7 linked regions of the Homo sapiens genome follow. The protein of the gene in region 5 interacts with the protein of the main gene of each other region in a pairwise test. Each region holds a gene or a part of one and is shown on either strand. Other genes may lie near its edges. The genes, in order: ARHGEF5, EIF4EBP1, NOTCH2NLA, ZFP64, LMO2, IKZF3 and HNRNPC.

What was found.
Region 1: the proteins of LMO2 (region 5) and ARHGEF5 interact in binary tests that used the Homo sapiens proteins (3 or more experiments, as listed by UniProt).
Region 2: the proteins of LMO2 (region 5) and EIF4EBP1 interact in binary tests that used the Homo sapiens proteins (3 or more experiments, as listed by UniProt).
Region 3: the proteins of LMO2 (region 5) and NOTCH2NLA interact in binary tests that used the Homo sapiens proteins (3 or more experiments, as listed by UniProt).
Region 4: the proteins of LMO2 (region 5) and ZFP64 interact in binary tests that used the Homo sapiens proteins (3 or more experiments, as listed by UniProt).
Region 6: the proteins of LMO2 (region 5) and IKZF3 interact in binary tests that used the Homo sapiens proteins (3 or more experiments, as listed by UniProt).
Region 7: the proteins of LMO2 (region 5) and HNRNPC interact in binary tests that used the Homo sapiens proteins (3 or more experiments, as listed by UniProt).

What each region holds. Positions count from the first base shown.
Region 1 is NC_000007.14:144,365,402-144,368,901, forward strand, and holds part of ARHGEF5 (rho guanine nucleotide exchange factor 5), read left to right. Parts: coding exon 1-422; intron 423-953; coding exon 954-1,011; intron 1,012-1,444; coding exon 1,445-1,509; intron 1,510-1,700; coding exon 1,701-1,954; intron 1,955-3,500. UniProt on the Homo sapiens protein: Guanine nucleotide exchange factor which activates Rho GTPases. Strongly activates RHOA. Also strongly activates RHOB, weakly activates RHOC and RHOG and shows no effect on RHOD, RHOV, RHOQ or RAC1.
Region 2 is NC_000008.11:38,057,700-38,060,865, reverse strand, and holds the end of EIF4EBP1 (eukaryotic translation initiation factor 4E-binding protein 1), read right to left. Parts: intron 963-3,166; coding exon 931-962; 3' UTR 501-930; downstream 1-500. UniProt on the Homo sapiens protein: Repressor of translation initiation that regulates EIF4E activity by preventing its assembly into the eIF4F complex: hypophosphorylated form competes with EIF4G1/EIF4G3 and strongly binds to EIF4E, leading to repress translation.
Region 3 is NC_000001.11:146,222,522-146,226,021, reverse strand, and holds part of NOTCH2NLA (notch homolog 2 N-terminal-like protein A), read left to right. Parts: intron 1-3,500.
Region 4 is NC_000020.11:52,164,280-52,167,779, reverse strand, and holds part of ZFP64 (zinc finger protein 64), read left to right. Parts: intron 1-1,754; coding exon 1,755-1,916; intron 1,917-3,022; coding exon 3,023-3,085; intron 3,086-3,500. UniProt on the Homo sapiens protein: May be involved in the regulation of mesenchymal cell differentiation through transactivation of NOTCH1 target genes.
Region 5 is NC_000011.10:33,882,077-33,885,576, reverse strand, and holds part of LMO2 (rhombotin-2), read left to right. Parts: intron 1-3,300; exon of another isoform or gene 3,301-3,393; intron 3,394-3,500. UniProt on the Homo sapiens protein: Acts with TAL1/SCL to regulate red blood cell development. Also acts with LDB1 to maintain erythroid precursors in an immature state.
Region 6 is NC_000017.11:39,857,813-39,861,312, reverse strand, and holds part of IKZF3 (zinc finger protein Aiolos), read left to right. Parts: intron 1-3,500. UniProt on the Homo sapiens protein: Transcription factor that plays an important role in the regulation of lymphocyte differentiation. Plays an essential role in regulation of B-cell differentiation, proliferation and maturation to an effector state.
Region 7 is NC_000014.9:21,259,443-21,262,942, reverse strand, and holds part of HNRNPC (heterogeneous nuclear ribonucleoproteins C1/C2), read left to right. Parts: exon of another isoform or gene 1-349; intron 350-3,500. UniProt on the Homo sapiens protein: Binds pre-mRNA and nucleates the assembly of 40S hnRNP particles. Interacts with poly-U tracts in the 3'-UTR or 5'-UTR of mRNA and modulates the stability and the level of translation of bound mRNA molecules. Single HNRNPC tetramers bind 230-240 nucleotides.

The sequences.
Region 1 (3,500 bases), on a different chromosome or scaffold from region 5:
CACCAGCAGGAGTAAGAGCGAAGTGTCCCCTGGCATGGCTTTCAGCAACATGACAAACTTCCTATGCCCCTCTTCCCCTACCACTCCCTGGACTCCGGAGCTCCAGGGACCCACCTCTAAGGATGAAGCAGGGGTCTCAGAACACCCTGAGGCCCCTGCGAGAGAACCTTTGAGAAGGACAACCCCTCAGCAAGGAGCCAGTGGCCCAGGGAGGTCACCTGTGGGCCAAGCAAGGCAGCCAGAAAAACCCAGCCATCTGCACCTGGAGAAGGCGTCCAGCTGGCCCCACAGGCGGGACTCAGGGAGGCCACCAGGGGACAGCAGTGGACAGGCTGTGGCTCCTAGTGAGGGGGCCAACAAGCACAAGGGCTGGAGCCGGCAGGGCCTGCGCAGACCTTCCATCTTGCCTGAGGGCTCTTCAGGTGAGCAAGAACCGGGACCACAGTGACACATCAGACCAAGCTTTTCCCAGCTCTTCCCACCTCATCCCATCTTCTGTCCCTAGGGTTCCTAACATTCTCTCTGCTGGCTTCGCTCACATGTGTGCCTAACCTCAACACAGAGAGAGCCCCGAAGTGCCCTCCAAGCTCCTTGGGATGCTCTTCCTTCTTCTTCCCCTCTATCTCCCTGTCTCTCCCTCAACCAGCACCTTCTTTGGATGTCCCAAGGTTATTTTGGACTCCCTTCTACTCTTCAGTTACAGTCCCTGCTTGCTCTCCTCCTGGGGAGTAGAAAAGGCCTTCTGTACTTGTCCCAGTCCCATCCTGACCCGTGGCTCGGGACGTCACTGGTACTGATCTCTTTCACGCTCTCTGCTTTGCCACTTTCTTCCCTCCCAGTTTCCCAATAAAGCCCATTTTCCCTTCTGGACCCCTGCATCTCCTGCTCTAGATCTTCTTTGGCTCTCTCTATCCCTCTGAAATCTCAGTTATCTTCCCCATTTCCACTTTTAGATTCAAGAGGTCCAGCCGTGGAGAAACATCCGGGACCCTCAGACACTGTTGTTTTTCGGTAAGTCACCCTCTCCCCTAACAGCCACACTGTACTCTCTTCACTTGGGATACTGAGAGTCCCCTAGTGAGGATTTCAGTTGATAAGGGTTCTGAGACCCCGAATGGCTCATTCCTGTTTCTTCTTGGTGTAAGGAGGAGAAGAGAGAGATGCCGGGATGCCAGCTTAGGGAGATTGTCTTTATCTACCTCATTCGGTCAGCCGAGCCTACGAGTCATCCATCTTCCCAAGCCCTATGGCTGTGAACTAAACCCCACAAAAGCTCCATGTTAGCCCAAGTGGGTCAAGTTGCAACTCTGTGCCTCTCCGGGGGATTTGGTCTTGACATCCCAGCACACATCCCAGAGGCTAGAGACTTTGTCCCCCACAGTCACCTGGGGTGCTCTGTGTCTAATGGCCAGTAGGTACCCCAGAGCCCTTCTTTACTCCACAGGGAGAAAAAACCAAAGGAGGTGATGGGAGGCTTTTCAAGACGCTGCTCCAAACTCATCAACTCCTGTGAGTACCTTGAAGTGGAACTATAGAACCAGGTGGGCATTCTGCCCAGCACTGGAGAGGGGCTTGTGGATGTCAGCAGTGGGGTGGGGATGTCCCTAGCGAGAAGGCATTGCAGAAGATCTGTTTCCCTGCCTCCGCTCACCGTCCCTTCTTCCTGCTTCTCTTCCTTCCCATGCTTCTTTGCCCTGCAGCCCAGCTGCTTTACCAGGAGTATAGTGATGTTGTCCTGAATAAGGAGATCCAGAGCCAGCAGCGGCTGGAGAGCCTGTCCGAGACACCCGGGCCTAGCTCTCCGCGGCAGCCTCGGAAGGCCCTGGTCTCCTCCGAGTCGTACCTGCAGCGGCTCTCCATGGCCTCCAGCGGCTCCCTCTGGCAGGAAATCCCCGTGGTGCGCAACAGCACCGTGCTGCTCTCCATGACCCATGAAGACCAAAAGCTGCAAGAGGTACTGGGCAGGCCACGGTGGGGAGGGGGCTACAGAAAAGATGACAAGGTCTTGTTTGCTAGCATCCTTCTCTCCTGCTCACCACTGCCACCAAGAGTCGGCTGTCCCCACCACACAGGCGCGTGTACATGCCACAGCTGTGGGTCATGTCCATTCTGAAGAAGTTGAATTGTTTTCTGGATTTCACCACCTCCCCTTTCATCCTCACCTCCTCATGCCATAGGCCACTTGCTCCTACCTGATGTTGGTCTGGGCTATACATGGTGGCCATTGCCTCTGAATTTGTGTGGAGGAATGTGGAGTTAATCCCATCATCACTGCTGTTTCAGGGTAGAGGAAAGCTTCCCTGTTCAACCAGGGTTTCAGGCTACACTACAGTTTTCCTCTTTAGCCAAGGCACATTCCGGGGCTCTTTGTTGGGTCCCTTGAAGAGGGCCCTTTGCAGCTGTCCTGTGGTCCATCAATCTAACAGGGGCCTTAGAGTGATCATCAGTCCCTGCTTGATTGTTACTCCCAACAGCAAGACTGAACTAGAGGCTGTTTGTCTGATTCTAAGCTATTACCATTAGTAAGTTTTACATGGAGAGCGCCTCTTATTAATTTGTCTGAAATATGGGGTAAAACCTTTCTTCCCAGAAAGACAGTATGGAACAATGGAATAGAATAATGTTTAAGAAATTAGGTTCTGGAAGAAATGACCTGGATATGAAAACCACTTTTTTTTAAAATTATTAATTTATTAGAGACAGGGTCTTGCTCTGTCACTCAGGCTGGAGTACAGTGGTACAATCATTGTTCACTGCAGCCTCAACCTCCTGGGCTCGAGCAATCCTCCCGCCTCAGCCTCCCAAGTAGCTAGGACTACAGGTATGTGCCACTATGCCTAGCTAATTTTTTAATTTTTTGAAAAGATGGTGTCTCACTATGTTGCCCAGTTGTCTCGAGCTCCTGGGCTGAAGCAATACTCCCGCCTCGGCCTCCCAAAGTGCTGGAATTACAGGCATGAGCCACTGAGCCCAGCCCCAGAGCCCACTTTAATATTTCCAATTTACCTTTGGCCAAATGACATTTGTAAAACTGAGATACAAACAGTTACTGCAAGGATCAAGAAACATGAATGCCTGGTACATAGTAATTTCTCAAAAAATGTTGACTTTTCATTTTAAGTAAGCCAGACCTAGGTTTGAAACATGACTTCACCATTTGCTAGCTTAGGCAGCCTTATAACATCACTAAATCTCAGTTTCCTCACTTGCAAATTGAGGATAATAATGCCTACCTTTCAGGGTTGCTGAATGGTTTAAATGAAATAATGCATATCTAATTTAGCAGTAATATTTGATGTATAGTTTGATAAATATTAGTGCCGTACTCTCTGCCTTTCAGAGGCAGGGAGGAGTAAAATTTGGGCCAGGAGGACTTATGGACAGACAATGCTTTTACCAAGTCAGAGAGAGAATACATTTTTAGACTTTGCAAAGTTCAGACTTGAGAGCCCTGTTGTGGCTGCAAATTTTTAAGCACAGAGAAGATATTTAGAAAATAA
Region 2 (3,166 bases), on a different chromosome or scaffold from region 5:
ACCTGTTCTTGTGCCAGTCTTCTCAGCTGTAAAGTGAGGATAACAGTTGTTCTACTTACCCACAGGATCAGAGTCAGAATCAAATAAGGACAGGCCCACGCTTTAGAAGCACTGTACAAGGCTGGGCACGGTGGCTTACACCTGTAATCCCAGCACTTTGGGAGGCCAAGGCGGGTGGATCACCTGAGGTCAAGAGTTCGAGACCAGCCTGGCCAACATGGTGAAACCCTGTCTCTACAAAAATACAAAAAAATACTAGCTGGGCATGGTGGCGGGCACCTGTAATCCCAGCTACTCGGGAGGCTGAGGCAGGAGAATTGCTTGAACCCAGGAGGTGGAGGTTGCAATCAGCTGAGATTGCGCCATTGCACTCCAGCCTGGGCCACAAGAGTGAAACTCCGTCTCAAAAAAAAAAAAAAAAAAAAAGCAGCAGCACTGTACAGATAGCAGCTGGTGTTAGTTACCAAACAGAGTTGAAAAAAGCTCAGACGGGGCCCAACTCTTGGCCCTAGGGCGAAGGTGGCTTTTATTTCCTCTCTTGGGGAAGGAGGGGGAGGGAGCTTTCCCAAGCACATCAACCTAAGGAAGGGGTGGTTGCGCCCCCAGCAGCGAGGGGCTGGAACTGCTGATCATTCGGAAGGAAGGGTTCGTTCTTGTCCACTTCCTGGCCCTTGGCTGCAGGGTGTGCTGGCAGGGGTCACTCCCCTTGGGGTGGCAGCTCCTGCATCAGTGGAGGCACAAGGAGGTATCTGCTGGTGTTCACGAAGAGGAGGGGGCAGGTGCCCTGAGTGAGGGAGAAAGGGCTGGGGTGTCCGACCCCACGCCAACGCCTGCCCAGTATGATCACTTTCATAAGGCCTGGCTGGTGGGACTCCTCCCAGGAAGGCCCTGAGGGGCCCCTTGGTAGTGCTCCACACGATGGCTGGTGCTTTAAATGTCCATCTCAAACTGTGACTCTTCACCTGGGGAGAGAGGGGACAGAGGGCCAGGTCAACAATGGGTGAATGCTTGGTATATGAGGCCATTCTTTCATTGCTATAAAGAAATACCTGAGGTTGGGTAATTTATAAAGAAAATAAGTTTTTTTTTGTTTTTTTGTTTTTTTTTTTTGAGATGGAGTCTCACTCTGTCTCCGAGGCTGGAGTGCAGTGGCCCAATTTCGGCTCACTGCAACCTCCGCCTCCTGGGTTCAAGCGATTCTCCTACCTAAGCCTCCCAAAAGAGTAGCTGGGATTATAGGCACCCACCACCACACCCAGCTAATTTTTGTATTTTTAGTAGACCCGGGGTTTTGCCATGTTGGCCAGGCTGGTCTCGAACTCCTGATCTCAGATGATCCACCCTCCTCAGCCTCCCAAAGTGCTGGGATTACAGGTGCGAGCCACCGTGCCCAGCCAAGAAAAGAGGTTTAACTGGCTCGCGGTTCTGCAGGCTGTACAAGCATGACGCCGGCCTCAGCTTGGCTTCTGGGGAGGCCTCAGGGGGCTTTTCGTCATGGTGGAAAGCAAAGCGGGAGCAGGCATGTCACATGGAGGAAGCAGGAGCAAGAGAGAGGGTGGAGTGGCGCTCCCACACTTTACAACAACCAGATCTCGAGAGAACTCATTCACTATCATGAGGACAGCACCAAGCTGTGAGGGATCTGTCCCCACGACCCAAACACCTCCCACCAGGCCCTACCTCCAACACTGGGGATTACAATTTAACATGAGATTTGGGCAGGGACAAATATCCAGACTATATCATTTCGTCTGACTCTTGTTGTTTTTGCTTTTTTCTTTAGAGACAGGGTCTCACTCTCTTGGCCAGGCTGGCGTGCAGTTACGCAATCATAGCTCACTGCAGCCTTGACCTCCTGGGCTCAAATGATCCTCTGGCCTCAGCCTCCCAAGTAGTTGGGATTACAGGCATGCACCACCATGCCTGGCTAATTTTAAAATTTTATGTAGAGATGGGGTCTTGCATTGTTGCCCAGGCTGGTATTGAACTTCTGGCCTCAAGTATTCATCCTGCCTCAGCCTCCCAGAGTGCTGGGATTTCAGGCATGAGCCACTGTGCCTGGCCACCAGCTGATGTTTTTAGGGGCCAGGGACAGCCCCTATTTTTTGAAAGTAGATAACTTGTTTAGTTTCACAGGCTCACAGCTGGAAGGAAATTAAGCTTGAGATGAATCATGCTGTGAGTCTTGTCTGATTCAGATGAAATTCTGGACTTTGAACTTTTGAGCTAGGACTGCAACGTGTTAAGTCTTTGGGGATATGGGGACCAAATTAATATATGTGTATATGAGAAGGACATGAGTTTGGGGGGTCCAGGGCTGGAATGCTATGGTTTGAAATTCATACAGAAACTTAATCCCCAATGTAACAGTATTAAGAGTTGGGGCCGTTAAGAGGTAATTGGGTCATGAAGGCTCTGTCCTCATGAATGGATTAGCCCATTCCTGGATTAATGGGTTACCACAGGAGTGGGCTAGTTATCACAAGAGTGTTATAAAAAGGCAGCTTGGTTCTCTCTCATGTGCCCCTCTTGCCCTGTGATGCCTTCCGCCATGTTATGATGCAGCAGGAGGCCCTCACCAGAAGCCCAGCAGATGCGGGCACCATGCCCTTGGCCTTCCCAGCCTCTAGAACTGTAAGAAATAAACCATTTTTCTTCATAAATTACCCAGTCTCAGGTATTCAGTTACAGCCATAAAAAAACAGACTAAGACACAGGCAACTATTGTCTGTCTTGTACTGTGAGGTTCCCAAGGTAATTATGAATCATGTCCTGCAGGCCCTGGGGAGATTAATTCTGCTGCTGTTAGCAGAGCCAGCCAAGCTGAGGTCCCTGCTGCTTCCTGTCTGGGCCTGGGGTACGGCCTTCCGGGTGAAGGGTCGGCGGGTTCCAATCTGATTATAGTTGCCCGGAAGTGCTTATGCTGCATCATCTTGCAGCAGAGAACTCCAACACTCTGCCAAGCCAGTCAGGATGCCACAAAGAGTGCATTCACTTACACCACTACCACAGTGGCTGCTCTAATTACTCGGGAGGTGGGGACAGCAGGAAGGACCCAGCTACCAAATGTCAAATCGGCAGAGACAACTGGCTGCATTGTTTCTACCTGCCTTCATGAAGATCCACTAGGGGACCAACAGCCCAACAGGAGGCATCCCGGATGTAT
Region 3 (3,500 bases), on a different chromosome or scaffold from region 5:
TTTGGTTCACCTGGATTGTAGTTGCTGACTTCAGGACCTTTAGAGAATGTTTAAATTCAGTGGGATATGCTTGGATGGTTCAGAGCAGCCTTACAATACATTTTAAAAATATCACACCCACAGAAATTCTATTTTGCCCACAAAATTTGCATTGATCTAGTTCCCACTCTGTGTTGCCATTCCTAGTGATCCTCCTCCCTACCTCTCCCATTATGGTAGAAAAAAACTCTGTGTCCTGGCTACATCAAAATCTGTTGGGGTGGATCTTGGACTCAGCACCCAGGGATTCTGATAAGGTAAGTTTGAGAATCCATATTTTTTCAAGGTTTACAGGTGATTCTGACAAGTAACTTGGTTGCAACCCACTGATTAAGTACATTTTTTTTTTACCTTCAGGTGTGTGTATGAGGTCTTTCTAAATTTAAGAAATTTCCATAACAAATGTAACCTTAGTCATTCCAGTGTTTAACACTTCTGACTCAAGAATTTTAAAATTGCTAACGTAAGAGATATAGAATATAATGTCATTTCTTCTGTTTATCTGGGTGCAGTATGTCTGCATTGACCCTTTAGAAGGGCTTCATATATTTAGATGATATAATAAATTCTCTACCTCTCCTTTTCCCTTTTCTTCTGTTATCTCTTTTTCCTTAAATGTCATTCATACATGTTGTTTTTTGACCCTTTATCTATATACGTCTGCAATGATTTTAGAGTAAAAAACTGCAAGGCGTGATTTGAATAAGGATATAAGAAATTTTACATCATTTTCTTTATATTGTGTTCACAGTCCATAGTTACATGCTTCCTTTCTTGATGTCTCAGTTCGAATGCCTAAATTTGAACTATTAATTTTCCTTCCACCCTTTCCTGATTTTCCTGTTTTTGTTTCCCCCCCTTTCTCTGCAAATGACTTGAAACCAAAAGGTCTTCTTTTCTTTCTTTGTCAGTCTACCATATGTGTAGTATTTTGGACAGATCACTGAACTAGGAGCCAGAAGACCAGAATTCTTCTCCAGGTCTGTTATTAATTGGTTTGGTGACCTTGTAGGAGAGCCACTGTTTTGGTCCTCCATTTTCTGATGTTCATTGTTCATGGTCACAGAGCCAATTAGAGTTGAGACTAGAATTCCTTTCTTCTGGTGTCCAGTGCCTCATTCACTGTCCACATTGCTTCCATCTCGTGTACAAATGCGCTTATGTGCACAAAAACTCTTATAACATCCTCAAGTGCTTATTGTTAATGCGTACATGAGGAAGGAATCGTGTATTTTCATTTATGTGTTTATTCTAATGCCCATACCCTACCCCTGTACCTGGCATGATGCCTTGGTATCTAATAGGCACACAATAAATACTTGTTCAGTCGAACAATTATTTTTAGCCACTTTCTTATTTTGGACAACTGTGGTACTCCTAGACATTTTAAAAATAGTATTTGCAGGAGTCATGCTTACCTTACATTTGGGGAAAAACCAAATTTTTCCCTTCCCCAGATGTTTCATTTAAACTTGTAATTTTGAATTTCTTTGTGTGTGGGGTTTCTTTCTTTCTTTTTCTGATCACTTCTGCAATTTATAAAGGTCACTTTGACTTTGGAATCTCACTTCAAAGGCACTGCCATCCACCCCCTGCCTCTCATTCAAGTTTGCTTCCACTGCTTCCTGTATTACTGTATTACTAGGCCAGCAATTTCTGTTATTTTGTCCAGAATAGCCACACCTTATTGTAATTTCATCATTTTGGGGACTAGTCATTTTTGGAATACTATTTTTAAAATTAGAGTTAACTAAGTTTATATTTATTTTGATAATTTTTTTTGAGATTTTTTTCATTGAGTTGGATATTGCAAACTTGTACTGGATTGAGAGAATATGTACATTTAGTAAAGTATATTTGCTTTTTTTTTTTTGAACCAAGAGAGTCCCCTGAACACCCTACTGACAAAAACTAAAGGTGAAATATGATGAATAAATATTTGAGAGAATCACATGGTGTTGAGTTGTCTCTGCCACATGATTTTGATCCTTGAGGGCCAGGTCTGTGCTACACACATTTCTTCTCTGTACTACAGAACTTGTCTGGCATGTGCCCCAAATTCAGAGTCAACTGAGCGGCAGGTCTTAGTCACAGCATCTGTGACTCCTGCTTTCCCACCTTTAGAACATTCTATAGGAGAGGCTGATGGTGAGTTGGAGTGTGTTTCTATGTTCTTTTTTCCTTTGAAGAGATAGGATCAGTTGAAAGCTGACCCCACCCACAGACTTTTTTTGCTATCTCTTTTAATTAATTAAGGAGTGGCTGAAATTTTCCTCTTTGTTGACTTATGCATTGGCGGGAACTTTAAAATTCATCTAGTCTTTCTGTCCATCCCATGCTGGATCTGATGTTTACAACATTCTAGTCAAGAGGTACCATATTTTCTCTCTTCTTGAACATCTCTTGTGGTAGACAGCTCTCCACAGCAGTTTATTCCATCTTTGGCCAGCTCTAATTCTTAGAAAGATCTTCTTATATTCAGCTGTAATCCATCTCCTCATGACTTGTCCTCATTGACATCTACTCAGAAATTTGTCTCAGAGTCCTGAGACCTGTGCAGGTGATAGGGACCCAAAGAGATGCTTGTCTGTAGACTTTACTGAGCTGACACCCAGCTCTCCATAAAAGGAGTCAAACCCAGTGAGGAGCATGTCTGGGGTGATTGCTCAGGTAAAGCATCTTAGCCCTACTTGTTTCATACCTCCCTGCACAGGTGGGCACTGGTGGGAGAATAACATTTATCAAGCAGTGTTTCCCTAACCTCTCTTATGATAAGAATAGCTCAGGTGTTCTCATGGAGATTCTGATTCAGTGCATCTGGAATGTCATCTGGGAATTTGTGTGTTCAAGAAATAGCCAGGTGATTCTTACATTAGGAAAGTTTTAGAATCACTGCAGAGTGAATCTGGGAAATCAAAGTGTTTGTTTTTGTTTGTTTGTTTTTTGAGAGTATTAGAGACAGGTTGCTTTGGCTAGATCCTGTGGTCATTTTTCCCCCTTGGAAATGCCTCCTACTTGCTGGCCTCACTTAGTACAGAGAAGAAAGCTGCTATGGTATAAGGTTAGTAAAGTTGTTTGTTTTGTCTTAAAAGAAATTTGCGAAATCCAGCATTTTCGGACTTCTGTTTGTGTTGTATGACTTTGTTGTAAGCCTCCTTATTCCTCCATTAGAATGTTACCTGAGATGTTAGAATGCATAGGAGTTCCACAGCCTTTTTGGTGTCCACTAAAGAATTCTGTCCTCAGCCGTTGCAAATGGTGCTTCCTTTGAGGATTTCTGCTTCATTAGCTCATGAACACATATTTGGTGTCGGCAGTTTCCCTCAGATGTGTTAGTGTGGAGAGATATAAAGGTCACTCATTTCTGGTGGTCCTGCTTTTGGGGTTTCTGGGCTGCTGCAGCAAATGAAATAAGGAAAGGAAAATAAAGGAGGAATCTAGGGCTTCTTGAGCAGAACAAA
Region 4 (3,500 bases), on a different chromosome or scaffold from region 5:
AGGTGGTGTCTGAGTGACTGAAGTTTGGGAAACAGAATATTACAGCGGCTCTCAAAATCATCATTAGGGCCTCTTAGCCTGACAGGTTCATCCAATGAACAAGCCTCCATTGGTCATATTTACTTCTTATTTGAAACCCAATCTTCATATGACAAAGTACATTCTAAGAAAGAACCAGAAAAAGAAAGAGGAGGAGAGGAAGGAAAGAAGGGAGGGAGGGAAGGGGAAGAGGAGAAGGAGGGAGGGGAAGGGAAGAGGGAGGGAGGGAGGAAGGGAGGGAGAGAAGAAGGGAGGGAGGAAGGGAGGGAGGAAACATGCCTAAGTCCCAGACTATAAATGTAGTTAACAAAGTAGTCACTTAATTTTTTACAACAAAAAAATTTGAGACTGCCTATCTTATCTTTTACAATTTTATTTATTATTTACTTATTTTTATTTATTTTTTATTTTTTTTGAGACAGAGTTTTGCTCTTGTCGCCCAGGCTGGAGTGTAACAGCACGATCTTGGCTCACTGCAACCCCCGCCTCCCAGGTTCAAGCAATTCTCTTGCCTCAGCCTCCAGAGTAGCTGAGATTTCAGGTGCCCGCCACCATGCCCAGCTAATTTTTGTATTTTTAGTAGAGATGGGGTTTCACCATGTTGACCAGGCTAGTCTCGAACTCCTGACCGCAGGTGATCCACCTGCCTCAGCCTCCCAAACTGCTAGGATTACAGCTGTGAGCCACAGCGCCCAGCCTACAATTATATTTTATATTTAGTCTGTGTTTTGCTATTTTTTTTTTCTTTTTGCTTCAGAACCTCAGTAAGAGTACAAGGAATTTTTTGAGGGGGGGAAATACTTATGCTGAGAAGAATGTTAATTAGACTAATTTTGCCCCAAATCCCTTCTATCGTTCCTTTTTGGTGTTTCATTAGGATTTTGTCATATAGCTTATGAAAGCACTTAATGCATTTGGCTGCAGTTAACAGAAATCTTACCTGGCATAAATTATAGGGACATAAATTATAGGGACATTTCTTGTTTATTTAAGAAGTCTAGGGCAGGCATGGTAGTTAACAATGTGGGAGGCAGAGACAGGTAGATCACTTGAGCTCAGGAGTTTGAGACCAGCCCGCGCAGCATGGCGAGACCCCAGTCTTTACAAAAAATACAAAAATTAGCCGGGCATGGTGGTGCATGCCTATAGTCCCAGCTGCTTGTGAGGCTAAGGTGGGAGGATTGCTCCAGCCTGGAAGGTCAAGGCTGCAGTGAGCTGTGATCATGCCACTGCACTCCAGCCTGGGTGACAAAATGAAACCCTATCTCAGAAAAAAAAAAAAGAAAAAAGTATAGATTTGGGTGGCTTCAGAGCTCTGACTCAGCATCTGATTTCCATGTTTACCCTTATGGTTACAGAATGGCTGCCACAGATCCAGGCATCACATCATCACTCCAGCATATACAAAGACAGGAAGTAGGGCAGCCAGGGCAGCAAGATGAGCTTTTCTCAACTGCTTCTTTTACCATCTGCCCTGCCCACCCTGCCCCCCCATGCTATTTTAAATCAGGGAGGAAAGTCTTTTGCAGAAGTCTCCCAGCGGATGCTCTCTAGTGTCTCATTAGCTAGAACTGGGTCACATGATCACTGTGAAGCCGCAAGGGAGGCTGGGAAAGCAAACTAGTACATGCATTCTCTCTACAAAGGAAAGTAGGCAGACACCATAGCTAGCGGGCATTTATATTAAGAAAATTAATAATCACCATATCTTTTAGTTTCAGCTCCAGAATTTGTTTTTGAACATGGCTATCAAACTTACCTGCCCACGGAAAGTAATGAAAACCAGACAGCCACTGTCATCTCTCTCCCTGCCAAGTCACGCACCAAAAAGCCCACAACACCACCTGCTCAGAAAAGGCTTAACTGTTGCTATCCAGGTAAAGGCAGCATTATGTCCTACTTGTGTAGAGGGTGTGATATTTAACCAGGCTCCAGGGCTCCTCCTCATGAGTTCCTGACAACTGCTCATGGATGTGTTCCAAACTACCTGGCATAAAAATCAGAGCCCCCTGGCATTTACATCAGCACATACAACCTATCTCCCACTGTCTGTGGTCATTCTGCCTCTGGGTTCTAAGACTTTTCTAGCCATAGGCCTTTGAAGTGGAACTCGTGAAAATTTCAGGTTGCTATAAATTTTTTTCCTATGCTATAGCTTAGGAAGATATCCAGTAAGAATTTTCTTTCCTTACTTTGGTTTTAATTTATTCAGAAATAATTTCAGATGTACAGAAAAGTTGCAAAAATTGTACCAAAAAAATCCCTGTATGCCCTTCATCTAGATTCCCCAAATGTTACCATTTTATTATATTTGCTTTGTCATTCTTTGTATATATACAAATATATATACAAGTATAGTTTTCCCCAAACCATTTGAAAGTTGCTGACAATGTGATGCCCCTTTATTCCTAAATACTTCAGTGTGTATTTCCTAAAAACCAGAATATTCTTTTAAATAACCACAGGACAATCATCAAGATCAGAAAATTAACATTTATAGGAACTATTATCTAACCTACTGACCTTAGTCAGATTTCGTCATCAAGTGTCCCACCGATGTCCTTTCTACCAATATCAAAAGAATGACATTTTTCCCCTCTGATCCAGGCTCCAACCAGTGATCACTAATTGCATTTAGATTTTATGTCTTTCATTTCCTCTAATCAAGAACAGTTAAGCATTTATCTTTCATAAGCTTGACATTTTTGAAAAGTATAGGCCAGTGATTTTTGTCAAAAGGGCCTCAGTTTGGGTTTATTTGATGTTTCCTTATGATCAGATTCAGGTTATGCAGTTTTGGCAGGAACCACAAAATGACGGTGTGTTTTTCCCGGTCATCACATATGAAGGCACATGAGATCTCTTTTTCCCATTACCGTGGTGTTAACTCTTGTCACTTGGTTAAGGATGTTTCTACCAGTTTTCTCCATGCTAAAAGTTACTAAGTTTTCCTTTGTAATTAATCTTTCCTTTTTTTTTTTAGGTTGCCAATTCAAGACTGCTTATGGCATGAAGGACATGGAGCGGCATTTAAAAATTCACACGGGTAAGTAGCATTTCTTTAGCGCATATGCCCTCAACACCTGCTCTGTGCTAGGAGATGGGGATCCACATAGGTCAGACGAATGATACCACTCCAAACGTCACTGGCTGTTATGGGAATACAAGTCCAGATTTTAAAAAATAAGGTGCCATTTGTACACATGACTTTGGCAGAAAAATCTTTAACATAATAAAATCCAGCTCTGGAGAGGATGTGAGCAAACTTAGCTAAGTGGGAATGTGAACTGTTACAGCCATTTTGAAAATGATTCTGCCAAAATTAATTAAAATTTGAACGCACATATTCTCATTTTGAGGAGATGACCCTACGAGTTCATATGTGTGTGTGTAATGATTAGTAAAGAGAGGAATAAGGGGAGAGAAAAGAAACTGTCTCTTTTTTTGTCTTTTTCTTTTAT
Region 5 (3,500 bases):
CTACTGCCTAAGGCTATCTCCGGGCTAACTTGTATGTACACAGAGATAAAGCCACATCCCAGTGGCTGGACCTCATGCAATGTTGGGCCTCCTATCTGCCCCCATGAGCAGGCCACTCCCTTATTTGCACCACAAAACCACCAACACCAAACACTTCTGGTCTAGGCTCCTAGGTCTTGCCCTGTCCTATGTTGGCTCAGATGTTATCCAGTCTGGTCCCCGGCTCATGAGTCCAGATCATACATCTATCCAAATGTATAAATACATGCCTATGCTTGTATCTTCCTAGGCCCACACAGCACAACTAGTGTCATGGCCCACCCCAGATATTAAAGGAACACAAGAGATTGGAAGCCCCAGAGGGAACCTGCTTCACCTGTTCCACTCCTAGATAACTTCTTCCTGACGTCCCAAATACCTAAACTCACCTGCACACTGCTAAGTCTGACAACCCCCTTCACATTTTTCTGACTGTTCTGCAATTTAACCCTGCTGGTCACAGTCCCCAGTCAGAGGTGATGGGCAGTCTTCCTACCCATTGTCCTGGGTATAAGCATGACTTGGGGCCAGAAGAGTGGGACTAAGGTCTTACAATATGATCACACCAGGAAAACTAGCAGATACTTCAGAGAAAGATCCGAGGTCCTATCAGCCCACGTAACACAAAAAACAGCAGCACTGGAAGCTTTCACTGAAGGGCAAAAACCCCTAACTGCCAGGGTGGCAGATAAGAGACTAGCTCCAGATGATATGCCAGCTTCCCAGAAGGAGTATATGCTCTCAGAGGGCATAGTGTATCCTGCTGGACGTGGATAAATATTGCAAGGCAAAGTAATCCAAATAGCCCAATGGATGTACCACCAAACAGAAACCAAATTCTACATGTGGTACTCTGAACTCCCTAGGACTTGGATGTCCCCTGTAGCCTGGGGTGACCTTGTTTTAGGAGCCCTCCTGCCCACAAGTAGACTTACATACTGCACTGGCTATGTAAAATTGGTACAGCCTATATACAAGTATATTAGCTCTTTGGATGGTGAACCAAATGTTAGGGAGTGAATTTTGAAGAAATTGAGTTGAGTGCAAAAAGTTGCTCCCAGCAAAATGTCATTTGTCCAAATAGTTAACACCCACTGGGGCAGAAACCATCAGGGCACCCCACCCCTCACCACCCACTCAGCCCCACTCACCTCTGCAGCACCTAGTAATCATATGCAAGAAAACTCACCCTTACTCTTTTTGATTGACCACCCCCAGCCTGACCCCCAATGGAGCAGATCACTCAAAATTAATCTTCCCCCACTACCTCCTCTCGGCATTATTCAACAGGTGGGCCCCTGTCCTATATCTACGTAGGTCCCCAGCACCAGGCTCTTTCTCCTCCCCAGAAGTCAGGGAGTCCTCTTCTCAGTGGGGCCCTCAACCAGTGGCTTCCCTCGCTGCCTATGCCTGCATAAGTAATACACCTTTGAATTGCCTGTGATCACCGGGTCAGGTGTGGTGCGTTTTGGCATCCAAGGCTTTTAAATGGGAGAGAACAGCAGATCTGGTTCCTTTCACTGGAATATTGTTATGGTCCAATTCTGCAACCAGCTGACTTCATTACTACCTGTGAACTGCACCTCCAGCTCCTCCAACTGACCCCATACCCAGACCCTTACTTGGGCTGTTTCCTACCAGACACACCTGCTCTGTTAAGAAAACCATTATTGAAATCACCGGCTGTTAATTCCTACTCAGTCCTTAGTAGCCCTGTGAGCTGGAGCAAGTTCTGTAGGCTTTCTGTGACTCAGTTTCATCACCCATAAAATTATGATTACAATACTTACTTCATTAGGGTGTTGCAAGGGCCTAAAAAACACTCTATGTATAGCTCAAAGTACAAGCCTGACAACAAAGGAAGTTTCCAGATAATCGCTCATCAAGGGGCAACTCGATTTTCTGCTTCCTCCAGAAAGCCTTCCATGCTGATGTCCATCCACTCTGATCTCTCCCTAATCCAATCTGATTGCAGTTTTGATCAGCACCTCACTGTTGACCATGGATTTCTTCTCCATTACAAATGTGTTCATTTTGACTTCCAAGTAAGAGATAAAGGTCTTGGAAAGAAGTGATTGCATTTTACCTGGCTCTCCTACTGACTTTCTGTGTCATCTTCCTCTTAATTTTGGGGAGACTGAGTTTCTTTCTCTGGGATGGCAAATACATGGCCTATGTGCCAACACTTTCCCATCCTGAAACCTCAGGACACACACCAGTGTTCTCATCTTCTCTCCAGAACCTGGGTCCAGACTCACAATTCTTCTTAACACAATACTTTGGACAGTGTCTACTAACTTATCTAATAAATATGTTTTGAGTACTTCGTAGGTACCATCCCCCTTGGTCAGTTTCTAGAAGTTAAAACGTTGGACATCTTGTATCTGCACTTATGGAACTCATCCCTTAGTGGAGAAGAAAGACAATATGCAAATACACAAATAAGAAAATATCAAGTAGTGACAAATATAATGATGAAAATTAAATAACGGTGTGTTAGTGCCTGGGGAGGAGGCTATTTTTTAGATCAGGTATCCAGGGAAAGGCCTTCTGAGGTTTCTCCCTTGATCTGGGAGATTGGGTGTGGGCCTAAGAATATGTATTCCTAACATGCAAACGTAGGAAATTTGGGAAACACTGGCATAGTGAATGAGGTGAGGGCATAGTCAGAAGACCTAGGTCTAAATTCCGTCTCCTACATTTATGCAGCTGTATGACCCTGGGAAAGTTATTGAAATTTCTCTCTCACTTTCCTCCTCTGTAAAATTGGAATAATATTACTGATCTCAGGAGGTTTCTTATCAGGATTGAATAAGATCAAGTATTTAAAATGCCTGGCACATAATAAGTGCTCAATAAAAGGTAGGCATTGTTTGCCACAATTAGGTCTATCTATTTATAACCGTAATCTTTTGTTTGAATCACTCAAGAGACAAATCCAATAAATGCCGCTAGGTAATACGGTGTCTGCGTGTTGGCTTTTGCCTCATGAAGCTCTTCCTCTTGAAAAATAAATTTTCAAAAGACATTCCTGTGAGCAAGAATGCCCGAGTCTAAGGAACAAGGGTCATCCAGTTCTCTAGTTTAGGCATGTTTGAGATTTGAAAGGGCTTTGGCCTAATTTCCTCTCCTATCAAATGGGCACCAGGCTACCTGCCCTTTTTCACTCATGGGGGATTTCTGAGACTCAGAGGGATAAGAGATTTGCAAAGCGTGAGACACAAACAGTTGCAGATACAGACAGAACACTTGCTTTCTCAGACCGGCAGGTGCATACAATGGCAAGGCCACCTGATACACCAGTCCTGTTCATTTGGAAAAGGGACAACTCCTTCACATTCACAAGCTGGGCTGGTAAGTGAAGAATAAGAAGAAAAAAAAAAGAAGTCGGCAGGAAGCAGCCTCTTCAACCAGCAAAGAAACCGTTAGAATCCATCCCTGCGCCCTGATGCCAAAGTTCC
Region 6 (3,500 bases), on a different chromosome or scaffold from region 5:
TCACCCCTACCCAGTCTCTCATGTTCCTTCACCTCAGCTAAGGGCCTCTCCTTTCTGTGTATACTTCTACCACATTGTGTTGAAATTATTTATTGATGTAGGTGTTTATTCCCCCTCTGGTCTTTAAGCTTCTGGAGAACAGAGACTGTGTCTTGTTTTTGTACACTGAATGCGAAGGACAGTTTCTGGTTCATAGAAGGCCCTCAGAATTTGTTGCATTCAATTAAAATAGTGCTGAAAAAGTACTTTTTATTATGTTTATTGTGATGCATTTTATTTAAATAAATTTTTAAAGTAGGAGATTGGGGCTAGTAATTCTTTGATAAAGCTCAGTAATTTTTTAAGCACTTAAACTGTATAATTGAAAAAGAAAGCTTGGAAAACAAAAATGTTATTGGATATTTTTTGCTAGACTGTCACTTAAAGCCAATTTTAACAAAATTAGATTTAGGGGGTACATGTGCAGGTTTCTTACATAAGTATATTATGTGATGCTGAGGATTGGGCTTCTATTGATCCTGTCACCCAAATAATGAGCATAGTGTCCTATAGGTAGTTTTTCAACCCTTGCCCTCCTCCCACCCTTCCCCATTTTGGGGTCATCAGTGTCTAATTTGGGGGTCACATTAATTCATAACAGTCCATGTGTACCCAGTGTTTAGCTCCCCGTCATAAGTGAGAACATGCGGTATTTGGTTTTCTGTTTCTGTGTTAATTCACTAAGAATAATGGCCTCCAGCTGCATCCATGTTGTTGCAAAGGATATGATTTCATTCTTTTTTGTGTAAAGCCAAATTTTAACTGTTAAATTTACATAAGCAGATTTCAGGATCGCAATTAGTCCATTAAAATATCCATTGAATATGAGCAGAAATTTGTTTTCTCAGTCAGTAAGATATAGATGATGCCATAAAAATAGCATACGCTTTCAAGTGATACTTTAAAAATACATTGTTATAAACTTTTCATTCATATATAAATGTATATACTTACACTTATTTAGGACTAAAAGATTATTGATTATTGGTAGATCTTTTATCAGACATCCAGTTTTTTTTTTTTATTATTATTTTTAAAGAGATAGTCCTTGCTCTGTTGCCCAGGCTACCACAAACTCCTAGGCTCAGACGATCCTCCTGCCTCAACCTTCTGAGTAGCTAGGACTACAGGCATCCACCACCATAACCTGGTAATTTATTGTACAAACCGCCATGACCTGCTGATTTATTATCTTTCATTTTTTGTAGAAATGGGGGTCTCACTATGTTGGTCAGGTTGGTCTTGAATTCTTGGCCACAAGTGATCCTTCCGCCTCAACCTTCCCAAGTGCTGGGATTACAGGAGTGAGCCACTGCACCTGGCCTAGATAGATGTCCAATGATAATTGGCTCATATGTCAAGCTATAGTTCCAGACCATGTATGAGAAGAACTGAGTGATTAACACAGAAACTTGCCTATAGTAGGTGCTCAATAAATGTCTTTTGTCCTAAGGATTCATTAATTATTTTGAAAAGAGACCCTACACATCACAAGGCCATAGAATGTACTCTGCTATTTAGCCTTTATTAAATTTAGCTCCATATTAACTGGTATATTTATGATAATTAGAAATTATAAGGATGAGGCCAGGAGTGGTGGCTCACGCCTGTAATCCTAGCACTTTGGGAGGCTGAGGCGGGCAGATTGCTTGAGCCTGGGACTTCAAGACCAGCCTGGGCAACATGGTAAAACCCTGACTCTACAAAAACTACAAAAATTAGCCAGGTGTGGTAGCACATGCCTGTAGTAACAGCTACTTGGAAGGCTGAGGTAGGAAGATGGCTTGAGCCTGGGAGGTCGAGGCTACCGTGAGCCATGAGCATGCCACTGCACTGACATGAGCATGCCACAGCCTGGGCAACAGAGCAAGACCCTGTCTCAAAAAAAAAAAAAATCATAAGGATGACACCAAGGCCTTTTGGATCACTAAAAAAAAGATGCAATAATGAAACAATAATTATAATTTATTTATAATATATATAGATTGTTTGAAAAGTAATCTGTGTATAACTTTATTAATTAATATTACTATATAACTCATCAAAATACTTTTATCCCTAGTGATTCTGAATGAGGTTATTTTTTCAGTCTAATTGAAATCTGGTTTTTGCATCCAAAATTAAAAGTTTTTTTTTTAATTAAAAAGTTACTTAAAAAATTTAAGGGCTGGGCACAGTGGCTCACACCTGTAATCCCAGCACTTTGGGAGGCCAAGGTGGGAGGATTTCTTGAGGCCAGGAATTTGAGACCAGCCTGGGCAACATGGTGAGGCCCTGTTTCATAAAAAATAATAATAAAATAAAAGTAAATTGGCCTGGTGTGGTGGTGTGCACTTGTCCCAGCTACTTGGGAGGCTGAGGTGGGAGGATGGCTTGACCTGGGAGTTTGAGGCTTCAGTGGGCTGTAATGACGCCACTGCACTCCAGCTTGGGCAACAGAGTGAGAACCCATCTCAACAACAACAACAAAAAATGTAAGTCCAAAGTGGTATACAGTAAATGAAAATAATATGGAATTACCGTATTATATTAAATACCAATACCATATGAAAATATTATGTTAGATATGTGTCCAATCCAGGAGATATTTAAAAACTGGGTACTTGATGGTTACAGGCGCCTGTAGTCCCAGCTACTCGGGAGGCTGAGACAGGAGAACTGGTTGAACCTGGGAGGTGGAGGTTGCAGTGAGCCAAGATCGCGCCACTGCACTCCAGCCTGGGTGACAGTGTGAGACCCCATCTCAAAACAAACAAACAAACAAAAAACTAGGTACTTGGTAATGGATATGAAACAAAGTGCATTACTCTTTACTTATTGTCAGTACTTAAAATCAGCTTACTGAGTGATTTTTTATAACAGTGGAATTGGCAATATGTCACAAATTGTACTTAGTAGTGTTCTTAGAGATGAAATTTTTGGCAGATTAGGTTATTGTGGGTTTACAAAGGAAACTTTTCTTTCTTTCCTTTTTTTTAATAGAGACATAGTCTTGCTATGTTACCCAGGCTGGTCTTGAACTCGTGAGCACAAAAGATTCTCCTGCCTTGGCCTCCCAAAGTGCTAGGATTACAGATGTGAGCCACCAATGCCCAGCCAATGAAGGAAACTTTTAAAATAAGAAATGGAAAACATTTCAATACTGTCACTCATGAAACAGAACAAAACTATTATTTTTCTACTCTGAATTATCTAAGGATTATGCAACTAAGTTTCTTGTTTATTTTGTTGATTAATACACCTATAGCCCCTTCTAGACTGTTATTTTCCAAAGTTTAGGGATCTCTCTCTCTCTCTTTTTTTTTTTTTTTAATTTTTGAGATGAGGTCTCTCTACATTGCAGGCTGGTCTCAAACTCCTGGGCTCAAGCGATCCTCCCACCTCATCCTCTTGAGTAGCTGGGACTAGAGGCATGTGCCACCATGCGTAGCTGGGGATCTTTTTATAATCGGTGGTAACTA
Region 7 (3,500 bases), on a different chromosome or scaffold from region 5:
CTGATCTTTAACTTAACTGTTTTAGAGCATCTCTGGACGTCTGTATTTTTAATTTTTTTTATTTTTGTTTTTTTATTTTTAATCTTTCATTTGTTAAATTTTTAAACTGTGCTGCAATAAAATGTGTGTGGTACTACTTAACACTTATGATCGTGATGGCATTTTCCCTGAAAGCCATCTTCCTCCTGTTTCCCTTGAAATCCCATCCTGCTTTTCCTGTACACTACCCCTCACAAACCACAAGCTGCAGCAACATGGATGCCCAGCCTGGAGCAGCAGCAGCCAGGATGACCTGGAGCCAGGGGGGCCTTCGGAACAGATGCACACCCTTCCTGGGTGATGGTAAGAGGTGTGAGGTCCACTTGGATTCATTACAAAGACTAGGAAATAAACCCGTTTAACAGTTTAGCTGATGTGTATAGGTCATAGCATCTGGAAGTGTTTGAAACTTTTGTGTGTGCATCTTGAGGTGTTTCCCAAGGGGGACCACCTCAGTTATTTGTAAACTAATGGAATAATATGAGTTGCTAATTAACTTGGGCTGATTAGAACATTTTGGATACTTGGAAAGAGCAGCTGAAGTTTAAAATGAAAGTGGCTTGTTTTAATGATTAGCAACAAGAAAACATATTGGGGAGTCCCTTTTTTTAGATTGTTACAAATCAGTAAACATTTTCTGTCATTTAACATATTCCTTGGGTTTGTGACATTTTTGGATTATATTCTATTTAGACTTTTTATCTCATTAATATTTCACAAGAGTCAAACCATAGGAGATACAACATAATATTAAAATGCTGTCTCACTGGAGGGCTTTTAAAAATTTGAAAAAAGGTAGGCTTTTTGACCTCACAAAGCAGGGAAATCTGTTTAACCTCTACATCCAAATTAGGAACTGTCTAAGGCTGACCCCTTTTACAGTGGTGACTCAAGACCCAGCTAGATTTTGGGAATTCTAATGTGAATTCATAGAGTTCTAATGCTAGATTAGGAACTCTAATGTGTTCTGATGTTAAGAAGGAGTGTATTCTGTGTTATTCACAGGAATGGTGTAGAGATTAGTAAAGATGTGGATAGCCAAAGAGAAGTTGAGCAACCCGTAGTATTTTACTCACTGCAGCAAAATGTTTTGATAACCATTTTAGAGTTGCTCTGATAGGTTTCAAGCTGGGAGATAATTAGATTTTATTTTAAAATATTTCTATTTTTTGTAGAGACAGGGTCTCGCTATGTTGTCTAGGCTGGTCTTGAACTCCTGGGCTCAAGCGATCCTCCTGCCTTGACACCCCCAAAGTGTTGACATTACAGGCATGAGCCACTGCACCTAACCTGGAATAATTTTTTGAAGGCATATTCGGTACTGTTGTACTAGGGTAAATCACAAACTTGCCCCCTTATACCATACTCGGATGAAAAGTGAAATCTAGTTAAAGTGAACACCAGAGGTACACTCAAAACAGAATGGGAGAAAAAGCAAAAGATTCCTGGAAGTTATCTAGAAAAAGAATGGGAATCTTTATTTTTTAAATAAGTGCAAGTTTTATTGATGCTCTCTATTGTATGAGAGCTATTTTTTCTTCTTTGCTGCTGTCAGTGTACGGAAGCTGTTCACTATAGGTTCAGTTTGATTTATTCCTTGTTAATTCTACAAATTTATTATTTTTATGGGACATGTTGTGTTTGGGGATATAAAAAATAGTTTATTATGTTTAAGGGCTTCGCAGCTTAGTGAGGGAGACACATGAATGAAATAATGTCCATATATGATGAGAGGTAAACACATATCCTATAGAAGCATGCCAAAATAAGCTGGGGGCGTTGGTACCTGCCTGTAAGCCTGTAGTCACAACTAATTGGAAGGCTGAGGCAGGAGGGTCCCTTGGCCCAGGATTTGAGAGACTGTAGTGTGTGATGTGATTATCCACTGCACTCCAGGCTGGGCAACATAATGAGACCCCATCTTTTTTTTTTTTTTTTTTTTTGAGACAGTCTCGCTCTGTTTCCCAGGCTGGAGTGCAGTGGTGCCATCTTGGGTCACTGCAACCTCCACCTCCCGGGTTCAAGCGATTCTCCTGCCTCAGCCTCCCGAGTAGCTGAGACTACAGGCACGGACCACCATGCACGGCTAATTTCTGTATTTTTAGTAGTGACGAGGTTTCACCATGTTGGCCAGGCTGGTCTCAAACTCCTGATCTCATGGTCTGCCCGCCTCGGCCTCCCAAAGTGCTGGAATTACAGGCATGAGCCACTGCACCTGGCCTTAAATTTTTCTATTTTTAGTAGAGACAGGGTTCAGTAGAGATGCCATGTTGGCCAGGATGGTCTCAAGTTCCTGACCTCAGGTGATCCACCCGCCTCAGCCTCCTGAAGTTTTGGGATCACAGGTGTGAGCTGCCGCACCCAGCGAGACCCCATCTCTTTTTAAAAAAAGAAAGCATGCAGAAATGGTTACCTAACTAACCCTGAGAGGTCAGGGAATCCTTTTTTTATTATTTTTATTTATAACTTTAAATTTATAAATTTATTCCTTCTACCTTAATCACATAAAGGGATTTTTTTTTTTTTTTTTTTTTAAATAAGACGGAGTCTCGCTCTGTCACCTAGACTGGAGTGCAGTGGTGTGATCTTGGCTCACCACAACCTCTGCCTCCTGGTTTCAAGCAGTTCTCTGTCTCAGCCTCCCGAGTACCTGGGATTACAGGCACCTGCTACTATGCCCGGCTAATTTTTTTTTTTTTTTTTTGAGATGGAGTCTTGTTCTGTTGCCCAGGCTGGAGTGCAGTGGCACGATCTCGGCTCACTGCAAGCTCTGCCTCCCAGGTTCACGCCATTCTCCTGCCTCAGCCTCCCAAGTAGCTGGGACTACAGGCGCCCGCCACTACGCCCGGCTAATTTTTTTGTATGTTTAGTAGAGACGGGGTTTCACCGTTTTAGCCGGGATGGTCTCGATCTCCTGACCTCGTGATCCGCCCGCCTCGGCCTCCCAAAGTGCTGGGATTACAGGCGTGAGCCACCGCGCCCGGCCCACCTGACTATTTTTTATTGTTTTTTTTTTTTTTTGGTGGAGACAGGTCTCATTTTGTTTCCCAGGCTGGTCTCAAAAACTCCTGGAAGATTTTAATTTTTAGGAATGTCTTTCTAATAACAGTATGGAAATGGTGTAGAGGAAATGAGATTGGAAGTAGGAGATTAATAAAGGAGATATTAAAATCCAAGAAAGAATAACGACCTGGCTTGGACAAAGGTAATGCTATGAGATTAGAGATTAGGAGGTAAAATTAGGAGCATCTCAGGATGGATGTGATAAGGTGGACAAGAACACAGATTTGGCATGATTGCTGGTTTCTAGCTTCTGGGATAGGGATAGATATTGGGGAATGAATGAAGGGAGCAGATTATAGTTTGAGGGTGGGAAAAAGAATATTTTAAACATCTTGGAGGTATTCAAGGAACATTCAAGTATAAGATGTTTTATTAAGTATCTGAGTACTATTTGAAAA